Regions from separate parts of the Homo sapiens genome. Here region 1 is linked to region 2. Evidence: fine-mapped expression QTL. A gene starts in region 2. The other region holds a variant in brackets. All regions are shown on one strand. Distances are between the middles of the regions.

Evidence for each region. PIP is the estimated chance that this variant, and not a neighbour inherited with it, causes the effect. A credible set is the group of variants that fine-mapping cannot tell apart.
Region 1: its variant is the best candidate, but not a certain one, in a credible set for the expression of PCARE in skeletal muscle (GTEx, PIP 0.56).

What each region holds. Positions count from the first base shown.
Region 1 is chr2:29,047,945-29,057,525 of GRCh38, forward strand. It overlaps TOGARAM2 (TOG array regulator of axonemal microtubules 2), which reads left to right. Exons shown (of 20, transcript NM_199280.4): 20 at 3,812-4,286. The coding sequence ends at 4,149. Among named protein-coding and RNA genes, the nearest start is that of PCARE, 22 kb to the right of the region's middle. RefSeq lists an enhancer at 5,011-5,521. The variant T/C (reference allele first, on the strand shown) is at 4,508.
Region 2 is chr2:29,069,538-29,079,132 of GRCh38, forward strand. PCARE (photoreceptor cilium actin regulator) reads right to left here and starts at 4,986. Exons shown (of 2, transcript NM_001029883.3): 1 at 1,057-4,986. The coding sequence starts at 4,724.

The DNA of each region.
Region 1 (9,581 bases), 22 kb before region 2:
GCCTGGGTTTGGCTCTTGAGATAGTTCTCACTTTTCCCTGCTGTATTAGCCTGTTCTCATGCTGCTGATAAAGACATATCCGAGACTGGGTAATTTATAAAGAAAAAGAGGTTTAATGGACGAACAGTTCCATGTTGCTGGGGAGGCCTCACAATCATGCCACTCATCTTACATGGTGGCAAGGAAGACAGAATTTGTGCAGGAAAATTCCCCCTTATAACCTTTTAAAACCATCAGATCTCATGAGACTTACTATCACAAGAAGTACACCGGAAAGACCTGCCCCCATGATTCAATTACTTCCTACCGGCTCCCTCCCATGACACGTAGGAATTGTGGGAGCTACAATTCAAGATGAGATTTGGGTGGGGACACAGCCAAACTATATCACCCCCCATTAAAAGAATTGTGTTAAAATACACAACATAAAATGTACCACCTTAACCATTTTTAGTTGTACAGTTCAGTGGTAGTGTCCATGATTTTTGCAGTCATCTTCCGAACTGTTACCTTGCAAAACAGAAACTACGTCCCCATTAGGCACTAGCTCCCCATTCCTCCCTTCCCCAGTCCCTGGCAACCACCAACTACTTTCTGTCTCTACGATTTTGGCTATTCTAGGTATGTCATATAAATGGAACTGTACAGTTTGTCTTTTTGTGTCTGGCTTAATTCACACAGCAGAATGTCCTCAAGATTTATCCATGTTGTAGCGGGTGTCAGAATTTCCTTCCTTTTTTTTTTTTTTTTTTCAGAGAGATTCTCGTTCTGTCACCCAGGCTGGAGTGCAGTGATGAGATCTCAGCTCACTGCAACCTCTGTCTCCTAGGGTCAAGCCATTCTCATGCTTCAGGCTCCCAAGTAACTGGGATTACAGGCGCCCACCACAACACCCAGCTAATTTTTTTTTTTTTTTTTTTTTTTAGACAGAGTCTTGCTTTGTTGCCCAGGCTGGGGTGTAGTGGCGCGATCTCAGCTCACTGCTACCCCTGCCTCCCTGGTCCCGGTTCAAGCAATTCTCCTTCCTCAGCCTCCCAAGTAGCTGGGATTACAGTCACGCACCACTATGCCCAGCTAATTTTTGTATTTTTTTTTTTTTTTTAGTAGAGATGGGGTTTCTCCATGTTGGCCAGGCTGGTCTTGAACTCCTGACCTCGTGATCCACCCGCCTTGGCCTCCCAAAGTGCTGGGATTACAGGCGTGAGCCACTGCGCCTGGCCCGATTTTTGTAGTTTTAGTAGAGACAGGGTTTTGCCATGTTGGCCAGGCTGGTCTTGAACTCTTGACCTCAAGTGATCCACCCACCTGGGACCCCCACAGTGCTGGGATTATAGTCATGAACCACAGCACCTGGCCAGAATTCCCTTCCTTTTGAAGGCTGAAAAACATTCCATTAAATGTATATACCACATTTTGTTTATCCATTCCTCAATGGACACTGGGCTGCTTCTGCCTTTTGGCGATTGTGAAAAAGGTTGGTATAAACACGGGCATAGAAATCTCTGTGTTCTCACCTATTTTTGCATTCCATAGGGATTCAGGATACTTTTGAGTTATCGTTATTCAGTGTAGGCGGCTACTCAGGGTCATTCGTTTTCTTTTGGTTCCCTCTCACTGTCCCCCTTCTAGTTTCCCCTCATCTCCCACCCTGGGGCTGACAGGGACTGCTTTCTTGTCACCTGTTCTCTTCCTACTCAGCCTGTTTCAAGCACAAGGAATAGAACTCTCAACTCTTTCCAACCAGTGTACCTCTTTGCTCCACTTTAGAAAGCTCCTCCAAGCCCTTTACCCCAGGATCCTTTCCTGGGGAATGCTGGGGTGACCCAAAAGGTGCAGTCCTGCCCTTCCAGTTATCAGGACCACCTTCACCTCTGAGGATCCTGTGACCCTCGGAGGTTCCCTGCAAGAGCCCCAAGGGTGCAGCCTCAAAGCCAACATTCCTTGATAAATGTCACCAAGAGAGTGTCAGGCTGACCAGAGGGTGGCCCAGGGCATCTTCCCTGGTTCCTCCTTATTCCAGGCTGGCTTTGAAATCAGAGGGACCCGTGGGGCTCTAAGGGGAAGGTATCCTAGGGGATTAGATGATGTGGTCCTGATGAAGGAAGGACAAATTGCAGTTTCATGAAAAATAAAACAAGGTGGCTCACCTATGATCCCAGCACTTTGGGAGGTCAAGATGGGCAGATTGCTTAAGACCAGGAGTTCAAGACCAGCCTGGGTAACATAATGAGACCCCCATCTCTACAAAAAAAATTTTTAAAAAAATAACTGAGCGTGGAGGCGCATGCCTGTGGTCCCAGCTACTGGGGAGGCTGAGGCAGGAGAATTACTTGAGCCTAGGAGGTCGAGACTGCAGTGAACCGTGATCGTGCCACTCTACTCCAGCCTGGGTGACAGAGCAAGACACTGTCTCAATAAATAAATAAAACAAAAAATAAAGCTCCAGATCACCTCTGAAATATGGAATCCCTAGAAATTTGGGGACAGCATGCGGTAGAAAGAGTGTGGACTTTGGAGTCCAGGCAGATTAGGCCTTTGTCCTCTGCTTTGCCCTTTGCCTTGATTTGAGTCTTGCTTTCCTCCTCTGGAAAACGGACAAGCATCCTGCCTCTCAGGGGTGCTGTGAGCATGAAATGGAGCTGTGATGTGAAGCTCTGAGCCCTGGGCTCAGGCAGTTTCCAGGATATGGAAACTGTTTTCCACAGAATTCCCGGCCCACAGAATCAATAAAGCGCTGCTGTTAGTGTTGTTTGCCTGCCCCAGCACTTATCCTTCGGCTGGATGACAGGCAGAGCATGTGAATCGCAAAGCCAGCTTCGATAGTGCTAATGCGCTTAGGATAATGCGGCCACAGCTGAAGGCCTGAGCAGCCCCTCTGGGGACCCAGGAGAGCCCTTGATGTGGTTTTAATGTGGCCACAGCCCTGGCATTTACTCAGGTGATGAAGAGCTGGTTGGCAGATTCAGCTGGCTTCTGGGTTTTCCGGGGTTTAGAGAGGGTTGGGGGCCTTGGGAAACCAGATATGGGGGCTTATCACTGGAATGGTCTGTGCAGAGCTTGCTGGTTCACAAGCACGTTCATGCCTCTGCTGCTGGTCTCGTCCTGAGGTTTGGCATCCGGGCACCGGGGAGGCTGTGCTAGGCTTCTCCCCTGCCAGCTGTCTTGTCTGCCAGCATGCTTCATGTGAGAGGGTCTTGATTTCCCTCCCCAGTAGTTTTTCTCTGTATTTGTGTGGACTTCCATAGGTGGTGATGTGGATAAATGCAGTATTACTATAGTTACTATTTGTCACCTGCCTGCCTACAGGTAGGCACTTTATGTATATTATCGAATTTCTAACAATCTGGAGAGGTTGGTTCAGCATTTTTATCCTTACTTTATGGGTTTGGAAAAGGCTCAGAAAGGTCGGGTGGCTTCCTCATGCTGACACAGTTGATGGGGGCAGGATTGTAACCAGGCGTGCCTGCCTCTTTCCTGTTCCCTGGGCTGGAGGAACCATTATGATTGTCAGAGATTCTGCATATTTCTGCCTTTGCGTGCCCCTTTCTCCATAAAAAATATTTAAAAATTATAGTTTCTGACTGGTTGGTATAAGCACAGATATAAACCAGGTTGGACATATTCATATATTTTCTACTAATGTTAAAAGAAGCTAACACATTTTCATAGGCTGCTAAATGTGTCATGATCCTTAGTTGCTGTGCCTGCTGGGCTGCCAGCCCTTTGGGGGACAAAGTTGGTGTCCCAAGAGAGGGAAGTGGGAGAGGGAGAGAGTGCCTGGCTCAAGTGACTCTCCTTTTCTGCCTGACAGTGCTGGTGGCCTCAGTTTACCCCCGGAAGCCTCAAGCTGTAGAGCGGCATGTCCTTCCCATCCTCTGGCACTTCCTGAACACCGCCACCAGGAATGGCACCCTGCCTGGACCCAGCGGGAACATCCGCGGGGTGGTGTGCCGGCTGTCCAGGAGCCTCCAGGAGCACATGGGCTCCCGCCTGCTGGACTTTGCCGCCAGCCAGCCAAAGCACGTCCTCAAGACGCTCCAGGAACTCTTAGACTCAGAGTCCTTGGGAGGCAGCCGCAAGGCCACTGACAGAGGGGTGGCCCCTGACAGCAAGACAACTGGCAGCTCATACCCTTTTCAGCTGGATTAAAGATGGATCTGAAATGGGCAATTATTATTTATCTTATTTTTTTGATGGACTATTCTCCTGGTTACTTTCCCCCTTAGAGTTCCAGATGTACATGGTATATTTTGAAGTAGAAATAAAAGAATTACTTATTTTTCTAAGGTTTTATTATCTTGTACTTTTTTAATCACAGAGAATTTTCCAGTAACTAGGTTTGTGATGAACGAAATGAAATGTGACAGCAGCAAAACCAGTTGCAGACAATGTTGAGACAAAGAGTTAGGAAGAAAAAGGGTAGCACAGCCCTGCAAGCTGCAGCCCGCTCGAGACGATAGTTGCCCATCTGTGAGCTGCTGGGCAAGCCCTCCTGAAACCCGCAGCC[T/C]GAGTTGGTCATCGAATCCAGTCCATTTGTTATGGGCCTGATTGGAGGTGAGTGTAACAAACGTGTTCAGGGACATCGTGCTTCTGCCCTGCAAAAGCTGCAGCACGTGTCTGTTGGTCCTGTGGGAACCTTCTGATCGGCCCAGCTTATCAAAAGACAAGGGGAATTTGAGATTTGCATCACTAAAAGCCTTCTCTAGAAGTTGGAGTTCTGGCTAGTTCTGAAGAGGACTAGACAATGCTTTGCCATTGAAACACCCTAAATGGAGATGCATGTGGAGCGTAAAGTGCTACCAGTGTGCAGATGCTGCCGAGTCTCTGAAACTGCACAGGCTGCAATTGTGGGCCACATCACAAGGCTGGAGGGGCGAGTGGGCACAGCACGGGCCAGGACTTGTGGAAGCAGGGAAGGTGTTGGCCCCTGGGGGAACAGCCAGTGAAATGAAGTCCCGGCAGTGGAGAGGGAAGTCTGGGGCTCAGGCTCTGGACACTTTAGGTAGGAGTGGCTCTGCCTTGGCTGGGGCCAGTGGCAGGTTAACAACTGTGTGACCAGAAAGAGTTAGAGCTAAGGCCATGACCTCAAATGCACAGGCAAGGCAGGCCTGGTAAGGCAAAGGCTGAAGAGGCAGCATCCCAGCTCTTGCAGGGGAGCCCAGCCTGCAGCCACGTGCTGGGGCAGATCCAGACGACCGAGGCCCTGAGGGCCCAGCCTCATGCCAGCAAGTTTTCTGGCAGACACCCCCCTCCCCTGCCCTTCCCCAGTGGAACCTCTTTCCACTGTCATCTGCCCCCCAGGCCTAACATCCATTCCACATCCCTGTTCTGAGCCTCTCCTGGGGAGTCTGGCTCTGGAAAGCCCCGAATCTACTCACTTATGTATTTCCATACCCCACCAGGCTGAGGAAGCCACTTTCCCATCTTGCCTCTGTGGCAGGTGTAGTTAGTCCGGCCCCTCCTTACGCCCTGGGGTGAGGTTGGGCCTGCGAGTCATCCCGGGCCTTGGGCTTGTCATAGGCGGCTTAAGAGTGACTTTGGGTAATTCTAGCCCAGTGAGCTGCTTCTCACCTGATTGTGACCCCAGCAGGGGCTTCCCTGCGACCATCTAGCTCTTTGTTGATTCTGATTGAACCAGGTTAAAGGCCTGCTAGACAGGCAGCCATCCAAAAATGCCCAAGAGGCTGACAGTAAATGTTTTAAGTGTTGAACAATTTAATGAATTGCATTTGCCTGTCATCTGAGCAAATGTTTTTGGTTTGGTGAGGAGACTTGCATTTTCTGCTTTTATCCTAGAATGTATCAGAACATTTCAGGGTTTTTTAGATCCCTAGGAGGCCAGGGACGTAGAGTCTGGCAAGGATTTTGACGGCAGAAATGAAGCTTAGCAGTACTGTCCTGTCTTCCTGCCTTCCATGTGTGTTCTCACACAGGAAGCTTCCCATCCCATGGGCCTCCACCCACTCTCAGGGGCGGAGGCATTGAAAACAGCTGAAAACAGTGGAAAAGTGCAGAATACATCTTTGCACTGTTCTCTTTTCCCTCATTATTTCAGGTTTTATTAACCACACCTGTGGTGTGACGCTGCTGGGAGGCACTGGGTGGCTCTGGTGTACCTTGAGAAATTTCCATCTCCAAAGACTTCCTTACCTCATTACTTTTAAAATGAAGGGAAGACAGCATGTTGGTAACCTGGCCCTGGGCCTGTTGGGAATACCTGTGGGAATCTAATGGGACGGCCTGTCATGGGACATGAAGATTTTCCTAAGAGCTGGGGCTGGAGCTAAGCCCACACATACTTTGCTTGGTTCTGTGTGTGGCCAGGAACTCCACTTACATGAGATGCTCTTGGGGGTGGGAATACAGCCTCTAATGATGGAAGATTCTCTTTCTCTCAATCTCTCTCTCCATGTAACAAAAATGCAGGTGCAGTCACTCACTGCTTGCAGACTCCAGTGAACAAAAGGGAGGCCTGGTATAAAGAAACTGACTTTTTATTCCAAAGCTAGTTTAGGGGAAGAAGCTGCCTTGAAGGGTACTGTGTCGTTTTTGGAGCAGAAAGTGGGCACTTTTAAAGGGGCGGGGGGGGGGGTGCTGGCACGAATGGCATGCAGGAGAGGAAGCGGGCAGGTGGGGGAGTCCACATACTTGCTTTGATGACTTATGTAACGGGTGGTCAAGTTGGCATCTTCGTGGGCAGAACTAGGTTGTAAAGTGGCTGAAGCTCTCCGGGTGGGAGGGAGTTTCATAGTGGGCATATTTTGGGTTATTAATTGACTGTTGTGTCTCCAGGCAGTTTCCTGGTGGGTGCAAGTTCTGCTCTAGAGCTTCTAAGCACACAGTTAGATGAGCCTGCCCTGGAGGGAGTGTCTGGTAAAGGGGAGGTAAAAGGTTATAGTTGCATTTCTTTTATATATATGTTTATTTGTTTATTTATTTATTATACTTTAAGTTCTAGGGTACATGTGCACAACGTGCAGGTTTGTTACATATGTATACATGTGCCATGTTGGTGTGCTGCACCCTTAACTCGTCATTTACATTAGGTATATCTCCTAATGCTATCCCTCCCCCCTCCCCCACCCCACAACAGGCCCCGGTGTGTGATGTTCCCCTTCCTGCGTCCAAGTGTTCTCATTGCTCAATTCCCACCTATGAGTGAGAACATGCGGTGTTTGGTTTTTTGTCCTTGCGATAGTTTGCTGAGAATGATGGTTTCCCGCTTCATCCATGTCCCTACAAAGGACATGAACTCATCATTTTGTATGGCTGCATAATATTCCATGGTGTATATGTGCCACATTTTCTTAATCCAGTCTATCATTGTTGGACATTTGGGTTGGTTCCAAGTCTTTGCTATTGTGAGTAGTGCCGTATAGTTGCATTTCTAAAGGGCTAAGTAGGAAGTGGGGAACAAGGGGAAATGGGGAAAAGAGAAGAGAAATAATTTTAAAAACTCGTTTTCTTAGAAAAATGAGTGTACTCAGTTCAGAGTGAGACTCATAGACAGAAGACTTGTCTGAGAGCTGTAACTGCCAGGATTCCCTTTTACATCAAGGAGAATTTTTTTGAGATTTTAGGAAACTTTTCCTATAGGTCCCATTGTGGCAGGCCAGGTATCACTAATGCAGGCATCCATAACAACTGTTTCAATACTGACTGAGTGGTTAAGTTAAACATTAAAAGCTGAGAGAGCTGGTGGCCTTATACAAAGGCTGGAATGTAACAAAAGCCCACCAAGAGTTTGCCTAGGCCTTTGCTGGGCCTTGAAGCATGATGAGATAATGAAGGAATTCTTAGTGGGACCTGTTTAGGATTAAACAAGCTTTACTGGGTGTCTGAAGAAACTCCCCAGGCCTCCAAAAACAAGTTTATTGGAGGTCTGAAGGAACTCCCCAAACCTTCAGGATTTAGCAGGAGACAAGATAAGGGTAATCACCCCAGCACCTGGACCCATTTAGATTAAGTAAATCTATTGAGGCTCCAGAGGAAGGTCTTCAGGACTTAGATGTTAGCTACAGATTAAAAGAAATTAATCGCTTATGTCTTTAGATGAGTGCACACTTACACATAGACATGTAGCTTAGAAGATATGCAAGCTCTGGAAAACTTTGTAATTTGAGTTGGTCTGGCGATATTTTCCAGGCCTTCTCCCTGTAACCGGTTATGGAAATAAAAAACTCTCTTCCTCCCCAGTTCATCTGCATCTTGTTACTGGGCCACGAGAAATAGCAGCCCAACCCTCAGTTTGGTCCAGGAACAAAATCTCTCATCTTGTTTTCTCCTCCCTTTATTATCTCCTACCTGCTGAGATAATAAACGTTTCTACCCTCTCACTGTGCTTCGGAATCATCTGGCAAGACTTAAAAAATACTGAGGTCTACCCCCACCCCACAGGGATTTTGATTCACTTGGTCTGAGGTGAAGCCTAGGCAGCTGTATTTTTTTTTCTTTTAACTCCAGGTGATTCTAATGGCTGGGTGAATTCAAAAACCACAATAAAATATCAGATAAAAAAGGAAACTGGCCATGGCTTAGGCCCTGTGGGCTCCTGGCCTGCCAGCTCCCCTTACCTCACAGCCCTAGAGTATTCTGGGGTTGACGGTAGAAACTGAGTCCAGGCTCTGGAGTCAGGCCTGTGGCCTGCTGGCGTGTGGCTTGGGACCCATCTATCAACCTCTCTGATCTTTCCATATCAATCTAGTGTGTGGATGACATCAATGCCCACCTACACCTGGCTGTGGTGACGATGACTGAGAACATTCTCATAAAGCATTTAGCATAAGGCCACGAAAACAGGGAGCTGTTCTGCTTGGGGCCTGCCATTTCTCCAGCTGTCTTACCCTTTCTCCAGACGCCCTCAGAACCATCCCTCCCCCCAGAGAAGAAAACCCAGAAGCTCTTCTCTCCTTGTGGCTGTTCCTTCCCCTCCACTCTTCTGACTCTTGAGACTGGAGAGGGGATGATTTGCAGGGGAGCAGAGTGCTTTCTTGCCTAAAGCATTTTCCTCTTATTATAACTTGGTTCTGCCATTAGGAAAAGAAAGGGGGAAATGACCATAAGTCTCCTGCTCTCCTTGTGATGGAGGGAGGAAGATGGGGGCCCAGAAAGGGAAGCCGAGAGGAAGAGCCAACCTCCTCATTAAATTCTGCAGTGTTCCAGGTCTGCCATTCTTCTTGACATCTTATAAGGAAGATATTATTTCTTCCATTTCCTGATGAGGAAACTGGGCCTCAGCGATGCTTAATGAATAACCGCAGCCAGTGCACAGGAATCACCTGGGAATCTTGGTAAAGTTCAGATTCTGCTTCAGCAGGTCTGGGTGGGGCCTGAGAGTCTGTAGTGTTCAATTCCCAGGTGAGGTCAATCCTGTGAGTCTGGCAGGGACCACACTTTGAGGCGTCAGGTCCTAAGACAGCAAGAAAGTGGCTGAAACTTGGGTGTGTGTCCAGGCCTGTTTGACTCCAAAGCCCCTGACTTTCTGTTCCAGGATGTTTTATGGCTCCAAGACATTTACCTCCCCTTGGGTCAGTTTGAGCCCTTTGAAATAAGCCACGGAAACCCCATGGATTTCTGGAGTT
Region 2 (9,595 bases):
GTGGAAGGTGGGAGGAGGGAGAGAGCAGAAAAAATAACTATTGTGTATTATTAGTACCTGGGTGATGAAACTATCTGTACAATAAACCCCTTGTGACACAAGTTTACCTACATCACAAACCTGCACATGTACCCATGAACCTAAAATAAAAGCTTTAAAAAAAGTGGACACAAGAAAATACACACTTTTTATAAGAGTATATTATTTGTGTTAACGTATTTTTTAAAAAAATAATAAATATTTTACATATTTCTCAGTTTTAACTTCCAATACAGTAAACATTGATAGATATAGCCTCCACACGCAAAGGCTCTTTTGGGCTCTTAATAACTTTAAAGGGTTTAAAGCCATCCTGGGACCAAATAGCTTGAGAACCTCCCAACTAGATGCTGGTCTCCTGCGGGGAACCAGAAACATGGGGAGCCAGGCTGCTGGTTTGAGACACGGCACCAGTGAGCCAGCCACAGGGGCAAGCCTTTTCATCTCAGTTTCCCCAGCTGTAAAACATGGGGTGTGTGGGGTTGAACTAACTTGAGTGTTTTGAACTTTACTATTTTATTTTTTTGAGATATATATATATATTTTTAAGTTCTGGGATACATGTGCAGAACGTGCAGGTTTGTTACATAGATATATTTGTTTCATGGTGGTTTCCTGCACCTATCAACCCATCATCCAGGTTTTAAGCCCCGCATGCATTAGGTATTTGTCCTAAGGCTCTCCCTCCCCTTGTTCCCTACCCTCCAACAGGCCCCGGTGTGTGCCCTTCCTGTGTCCATGTGTTCTCATTTGAACTTGATTTTTTTTAATACAGCAGGGCCTCTTTTCAATTAAAATATTTCCTAGGCAGCTGGAATGTGTAACAGATAAGAGCACAGTAACTCAAGGTTGGAGAGTGGGGGAGCTGGAACTGCCCCCTACACCTTTTTCCCAACTGCCTCTTCTCTTGGAGCACAGTTTGAAAACTACTGAGACCCAGAAGATCTTTTGGCCCATTCGCTCTGTTCCTCTCTAGTCCAAGCCGCTGAAGGGCAGTGACCCCAGGACACTCCTTACCTGTTCTGGCCGAGCTGGGATTCATAAGAGGTGCTGGTGGGGTCCAAGGTGGGAGGCTGCGGTCGGCCACCTGGCTGGCGGTCAGAAGCTGTCCTCCTGAGGAAAGGCAGAGGGTTGAGGGCACACAGAGCTGCTCTCCGCTGCGAGTCTGCTCTCAGCCAAGGCCCTGAGCTGTTCTTCCAGCATTCTGCTGGGTTCCCGAGAGGGCCCCCAGCCTCTGGCGGCAGCGATGGTGGGGTCAGTGGGTGGGCTGTTGAGAGTGGCGGTTTAGCTTCAAACAGAGAGGAGGTAGCTGGGCAGAATATGGAATGTGTGTTCCCAGACACTTTGGCTATGACTGCTTGGCTGTCTTCAGAGTCTCTTGTTTCCTTGTGCTCCTGAGAAGGGGACATTGGGGGTGATGGGGAGGGAATCGAGAAAGGGGGGCTTGCTTCTGGGTGCTGGGTTGGGGGGCTGGGGACCTTGCACTGAGCAGGTGCACTCTCGGGGGGAGGGTTGGGCAACTTGGGCTGGTGCGGTGGGGAAGTTCGCCGCTTTGTGGTGGGTGGGCTTAGCACCCTGGGGCTCACAGGTGGGCTGGGGGGCGTCTGCACAGCAGAGGGGCTTGGCTGGGCAGGTCTGTAAGAGGAGGGAAGGCTCCGGCGCCTCTTGTCTGCTTGAGGCACCCAGTGTGTCCTCGTGGGAGAGGCCTTTCTGCCCACAGGGGGGCTTCTCTCTCGGCTCTGCCTTGGTCTGGCCAGGCTGGACTCTGAGGTCCTGTTTTGTCCAGATGGAGGGCCGGAGTGGTGCCAGGCGATGGCCTTCCGGGGCTGCCTGTAGAGGCTGGTGGCCTTCTCTGCCTGACTCCAAGTCCCACCCTTCACCTCGGGGCTTTGGCTGGTGGCTGGTGGGCTGCTCAGGTCCAGGGCTGGCTTCCTGGGCTGGCAGCTGCTCCTGCCACTCCCTGGCCCTGTGCTGTGAGGCTTGGTCAGGCTGGCGGTGCTCTTGCTGGGCAGCAAGTCCAGGGGGCTCACAGAGGCCCTCAGCTTTGGGGAAGCCCATGTTCTCCTGGTGGGGCCAGCCTCTCCCGGCCCTGGCTCCTGGGTTTCCTTGGGGGAGTTCTCTGTGGACTTGCTGCTTTCTGGGGACTCCAGAGAAGCGAATGATTTGTCCATCAGAACTTCCATAGGCGGTGGAGGGAGGTGCTCGAGGTTCCCCTCCATTTCACAGCTGAGCTCCTCACTCTTGGCTGCTTCTGCTTTAGGCAGAGGGGGAAAGATAGGTGCTAAGGGCTTCCAGCCTATGCCCATTTTGAGAGATTCTCTGCCTGATGCTGGAGAAATTTGGGGCTTCGGATACAAAGGGGCAAGCCCTGTGTACTTGGGAAATCTGGGGGGCATGATGCAATTCCTGAGGCAGGGACTTGCCCCAGCGTCCTTAGAGTCCCCCAGCATCCTCAGACTCTCCGTGGGACTGAAAGTTTCAATAAGCTTCTTGACGGATGTTCTGGTGGGACAGCCTCTGACATTCCAGTCTGTGGCCTTGGCAGCCTCACTGACCTCTCCTGATGGGATGGCATTTGGAAGCTTCCCAGCTTTGCCTTGTTCGTCCTCAGGATGGGGATTGCATTTCTGCAAGATGCTCTTGTCCTGACTAGGCAAAATACTGAAGTTCTTGGTGAGGGATGCCTTGAGCCTGCTGGTGGTGTTGCTTGGACTGACCCTGCAGGTGCCATTGGGCCACACGGCGGCTGCTCTGGGCTGCAGAATTTGCTCCTGGCTCTGCCCCTGCCCTTTGGCACCCAGGGCATAAAATGCCTCCAGCTTCTGACTGAGGTCCCTCTGGACCCTTCGCAGCTCCTGAAAGGTGGGGTCCTCCACGTGACTCTGGAGACACGACTCTGACTGGGACCTCGTCTGCCTCTCAGGGGCCCTCCTGCTGCCACTTACCGTGCTAGGTCTTGGGGGGACCACTGTCCTCCCCTCCTCCTCCTCAGACCAGTCCTGGTGCCCACAGGGCACAGGGACAAACTTGATCCTTTCGCTGATTGACTCCTTCATCTTCAGAATCATTTCCTGGGCCTGGAGGCTCCTAAGCCTCCTGGTGCGGGCCTGAAATGGGCTTTCCCGGTCAGCAGGTGAAGATTGTGGCCTTGAATGTGGAGTTTTTTCCTGCCAGGCACACAGACTCATGCTGCTCATTTTGTCTTCCTCCTCCTCCTCTGGGCTGCTGTCCTCGCTGTCACTAAGAGATGAAGCGTCCATCGGCCTGGAGGTTTTGGAAAGGTGTGGTTCCACAGAGACCCCAATCCCAAAGGAATCACATGGGGTGCTTGTCCCCAGCTTCAAAGGTGGGGAGGTGATATTTTCTGGGCTTGTACTGGAGAGGCATGGGCTCCTTGCTTCGTCCTGTGCTCGTGGCTGAACCTTTGCCATAGGAGCCCCTGAGAGCAGGCAGTCCTGGGGTCTGCCTGAGCCCAAACAGAATGGACTTTGCTGCCAGGTGTGTCCTGACTGCCTGGCCTCTGTGTGGGGTGAAGTCACCGACTTCCATTCTTCGGGCTCTGGTGCAAGGTCCCAGCTGGTTTGCTTGCCCAGCTTGTCCACCGACTGCACGGACTCATTGTCAGCACCAATGCCACTGTCCTCAGAGCATAAGGGGAGACCCTGCACCCCAGGGTCGCCACAGCCACTCGCCAGGCTCTCTAGCTGCCTCAGAGCCCTCAGGAGGCGTTCATCCACATTCCTTTTTGTGCTCAGCTTATTTTCCAAGTGGGTTGCAGTGGAGTGGAGGTAGCTGCTGGAGCCCTCCAGGAAGCTGCCGGTGAGCGAGGCCACTGTGCCATTGAGCACCTGCAGCTTGCTGACTGTGTACTGTAGCAGCTGTTGCAGGAGATTTGGCTGCTCCTGGGGCTCTCTTTTCTTCAAAGGCCAAGCCAGATCCTCCCTGACTTCCTGCAGGAGCACTTCTCCATCCTTGGAGATCTCCCCCAACAGCTGGCTGATCTCCTCAAAGCACAGCAGCAAGAAGCTGACCATGGGCTGCAGCAGCTCCCGGGTCTGGGTGGCCTGATGGATGATGCACAGAATTGCTTCATATTTGGAGAGGCTGGAGTGTAGATAGGTGTAAGCCTGCTGGTGGGCCTTTACCAGAGGCTCCGGGAAGTCCACTTTGCCTTCAGGCTCATGAGCAGGGTGGATGGTTTGGTAGCAGTGGCTCTGTGTGCTTGACGTGTGACATTTTGCTGTCCTTTTCCATTTGGAAGTATCTTGGGTACTACTTTCCTCACTCTCATCTCCAGAAAAGTCTGCCCCTTGTGATCCATGGGAACCCTGTGTCTTGAACGGAATATCCTTAGCCATGTGGCTTTGTGATTTGTTCAGCTGGGATGAAGAGGTTTTGGTTCCTGGGATCAGTCCTTCCATATCTTTCCTTTTGCCTGAAGCAGGATCTCCCATGAGCTGACAAAGACCTTTAGCTGTGGTTTGGTTCCTCCTGGGACTTGGCTGCTCCTCTGCCAGGCCCTCCCCAGCGTCATAGCAGGTGGAGTTTTTAACCAGCAAAGGGATGGAACCTCTTTCACTTCCGCCCTGACATCCTGGCCGAATTGCTTTGGGCTTTTTCAAGAACTGAATGCCACTCTTTGCAACGCTGTTTACAAGGTCACTGTGTGAAGGTGTACACCCCATGATTTCAGCTTGTAGTCATCTTCCACCCACCTTCACAATTTTCCAAGAATCATATTTGAAATAGGAACAAAAGGCAATCTTACTAGTCCATCCAGGCAATTTTCAGGCCAGAATTCTTTGAAGTCCATGGTACAATATCCTAAACTTGGAACCAGCTTTCTTTATTTTCTTGGTCCAAATGTGAAGAGGGAGTGGTACCTGTCGTCCTGTTGTTGTTCTAAGTTTGGAACCCTCTGCTGTTAGTGAGCAGCGGGACAATTCTGAAGGCTCCCAGCCTGGTGGATTACGGGCCTGTGTTTTGCTCGCGTCCTGACAGATGTGGATAGCAAGTGCAGCTTAAGCCTATTAGGTTAATCATGCCCTAGCCAGTCAGCACTCACAGTGTGTTCTAATATAGAACTTCTCAGCATTTACTATCTTGGGAAGCGGATTATTTTTGCACGTGCTCATGCTTTTAATTCTGTTCAGACGCCTGCCATATGAAACCTAGAGAAATGAGCCATAATTGCAAAGGCTCTGGAAGAGATGCATTTGTGGAAGAGAAGAGAGGGCTCGTTGATTACAGGCCCTGGAAGAGAAGTGACCTTCACGGTTTAATAAGGGCAAACCAGCCAAGTGTGCTCCAATCTGCTGTTATCAAGAAGCCCCCAAAACACACAATAGATAATAATTGAAGTAATGCATTATTGTTTGTGTGGCTTATAAAAACCCCGGGACTCTAGTATAGAGAATGTCTCTAAATAAGATAGTGAATGAAGAAGGCAGGTTGCTTTTCCTTTGCATTAGAAAATTGAGTTAGGTAGCAGGAAAGCTATCCCCCCCAGTTTGGATGGGGACAGCAGGAAAAGTCACTGCCATGTAAAGCTCAAGGCTGGTCACTACGCTCAGGAAGGCAATGCTTTCATGGGAAGAGGCTTCTTATTCAAACTTCTTCATAGGAAAACAAGCTAAAAACTGGGCAGTGGAGAGCCATTTCATTATTAAGAGGAGAACTCAAGGGGAAGCCCATTTTTCTGCTCAAACTGAGCATGGGGCTCCTGCCTGTGGCTAAGGGTAGCAGCTGCCCATTTAAAACCTCCTTTTAAACTTTATTTGCTGTCAGTAAAATCTAGAACAACAGCTTGGCCTAGAAAGACTGGAGTTTGAATCCTGAGTCTTTCTCCTGTTAGTTGAGGAAACTTCTGATAGTTTTTAAGCTTTCCTGAGGCAGAGCTCATCTTTGAAATGAGGACCACGGTACTTACCTCACAGAGCCATTGTGAGGATTGTCAATTAATACTTGGTAAGTGCTTGACCCAAGGTAGGTACTCAAAAACATGCAGTTTCAGCCAGGTGTGGTGACTCAACGCCTATAAATCTCGGCACTTTGGAAGGTTGAGGCAGGCTTATCATTTGAGCTCAGGAGTTTGAGACCAGCCTGAGCAACATGGTGAGGCTGTCTCTACTAAAAATACAAAAAATTAGCTGGGGATGTTGGCACCCACCTGTAATCCCAGCTACTCCGGAGGCTGAGGTGGGAGAATCACCTGAGCCTAGGAAGTTGAGACTGCAGTGAGCTGTAATAGTGCTATTGCAAGCTGGCCTGGACTTTGGAAGTGAGACCCTGTCTTCAAAAAAAAAAAAAAAAAAAAAGTTTCTTACTCCTTTCCCCCTGGAAGCTAGGGCACTTATAATAATGAAAGTCATAAGAATTTCATTGGTTTGCGTTGGTTTATTCCTGAATGGTCTGGAAATAATTGCCTATGATGCACTTAGAGCCCTCTGAATCTGGTGTTCTTTTTGCCCCCCACCCCCACCCTGTGCTCAATCCACTGCTGCCTCAGGATTTTTCTAAGGCCTCATTGTTTAATTTCTCGGCTCTCAAACACAATGATTCCCACTGTCTGCAGGAGGGAGAGGGGCTTTTATTTAACCATTTCCTATTTTTGGGCATCTAGGTTGTTGCCAATTTCGAAATTTTCCAAATAGAAAAACATTGCATTGAGCATCTCTGAGCATCCCCCTGAAGTTGCTGAGATTGGAGTTGCTATTCTGGCTTTCCAGTCTTCATTTTTTCCCACTTCATACAACCAACGAAAACAACACCATGGGTGTCAGGATGTCTCCAAAACAGGCAGGACTTAGAGCTGCCTCTTGTACTAGCTGGAGACTGGCCACTGGGGCTGTGTGCAGCGCCTGCTGCCTATCACAGCCCGATGCCCCAGAGTGCATCATTAATAAACTTCCCCGATCTGTTTATTTGAAGCAGAACTCAGGCGAGACACAAAGCCGAATCAGTGCCTGCAGGCGAGCTGCGTTAGGCATCAAGACGTTGCTTCATTTGTCACAGTGCTGAGCTGGCCCAGTAAACAAGGGTGCCACGTGGGAAGGCTTTCTTTTCCCTTCGGGTCATCCATTTAACAGAGTGAAAAACTCATCTGGAGGATGCTTTATGTAAATTCTTCTTCTCTTGGGATTTGGGCCCCTGCTTGACTCATCTTTGTGAAAAACTTTTATCTAAGTGACTAAAATTATTTCCAAACCAATGATCAAAATCAAAGTGTTTGCCTGGAGGATTTGCTGTCAGATAGCTCTGTACCTTACACATGAGTTTCCTTGACTATTCCAAGTAATTTAGGAAGCTCTTTATTCATTGCTGTTCATTTTTCATTAAGACCAACTTTTGTCTTTCTTTATTTTAAATTGGATTTGCTTCAAATGAAAAAAATTATTTTGAGTGGGCATATAAAAGTACAACTATTTTGGAAAACTGTTATTTAAAAATATACCCTGTGACCCGTCAATTCCACTCCTAAGAATTTACCCAAGAATATTGAACATAAAGGTCTGCAAAGAGACTGCTATAAGAAAATTTATAGTTCTACTCATAATCGCCTCAAATTGGAAACAACCCAAATGTTTATCAATAGGGAAATAGATAAATTTGATATAATTGTACAATGGAATACTACCTAGCAATGAAAGGAACAAACTAATGAAACGTAACAACAGCATAAATTTTAAAATCATTATGATGAGTGAAAGAAGCTAGACATTAAATAGTGCAAGGTGAAACATTCCATTTTTATGGAGTTCGGGAACAGGCAAGTAATCCATAGTTATATTAAATAATTAGAAAAGTGGTGAATCTCTAGGAAGAGCTATCAACTGGTTGTGGACATGAAGGAATTTTTTTTAGGGTATTGGAAATGTTCCACATCTTGACCTAGGTGGTAGTTATATGGGTATATACTATATAGGCAAAAATTCCTTGAGTTGTACAATGAAGTTGCACACTCTATGTTGCACTTGCGTGTACACACACACACAGACACACACACATCTAACTAAAATGCGGTATTGTATGCTTTGCTTGGCGCCTAAGAGGGTCCTAGCTATAATGCTCTAGGTCTTGGAAAAGGGTCCCTCTATTAGTTGTCTGTTTTTGTATAACTACTCCAAAAATAAGGAGCTTGAGATAACATCTCACAGTTTGTGTGGGTCAGGAATTTGGGGGCAACTCAAAAGGATCTCTCATGAGTTTGCAGTCAAGATGTCAGCCGGGATTGCAGTCATCTGAAGGCTTGACTGGGGTTGGATGATTCTCTTCAAGATAGCTCATCTACATGGCTGTGATAGCTCACTCACATGAAGGCCTCCATTCCTTGCTGGCTGTTTGCAGGAGGCCTCAGTTACATGTCACATGGACCCCTCTGTAGGGCTGCTCGAGTGTTCTTACAACAGAACAGCTGGCTTCCCCCAGAGCAAGTTCTAATCCCAAAGGTCACCTTCACTTCCTCCATATTCTATTCTGTAGAAGCTGGTCACTGTGTAGAGTCTACATTCAAGGAGAGAAAAATTAGGCTCCACCTTCAAAAGGTCACTTGAAAAAAAAAGATCAGGCCATATCATAGCTCAAACCAATGCATCTAGTGTAACTATACTAAACATTAGTTTATAAGGTACTAGTCTTTCCCCTTTAGCATGTTAAATAAATTCCATGCCATTTTGTTTGATGTGGCCCTGAACTAATTGATCAGCAAAAGATGGTTCTAGTGTGACATCAGTTTTGAGCCAAGACTGAAAGTCATTTAAACAATCTAAGAAATGTTTTACCCCTCAAAGTCTATCAGCCTCACCAAAGGGGCTCTCCTGTACCTTAAAAGCCAAGAAAAATTTCCCACTAGTCAAGGCCTACCTAGGACATACCTGGTCCTCCATATCTGAAGGAGTGCTTTTTGCAACACAGTTCCTTGGTCTGGATGTGAGATGAACAGGTAACAGAGAGATAAGCACGCATCTATTGTGGTGAGCTGGCGGGGAAGGAGGCCATGTTTGTGTCCCACGCACTTCATTAGGCACTCACTTTACATTTATCTTTTCAGAAGCTGGCCTTCCTTGCTTTGCTTTGGAGGATCATTAAAAGAACCATTCTGGCTACTGTTATATACCTTAGAGCAATCCATCCAGAGTTGCTCGTGGGATACACAATTCTATCAGAAACCAACATGTGATATCCAGGTGTCTGCCCTAAGTAGCTTTTGATTTGGTGATGATAGTAGAAACACCTGCCTGTTTTTCTTGAATCTTAGTGTGCATGGCGTATGGTCTGGATCAGTCATCACACAGGTACATTGTACCTCTGGAGGTTGACTCTTTAAACCTTTAAGATGCCTCTAAGTATCCTCCAAAGCAAATTTCATGTACACAAGGTAGTGTATGTTTAGAATCAAAGTATCCTAAATGTACCACAAGCTTGAAAAACATTTATCTAGTTTTTTTGTATGATAGAAAGTGTTTTATTGAAATAGATTCAATTCTTACATATAAATTAGAGTTTTTTTTTTAAAGGGTAGGCTAACTTTTGTAACTAACAATCCCCAAATATCAGT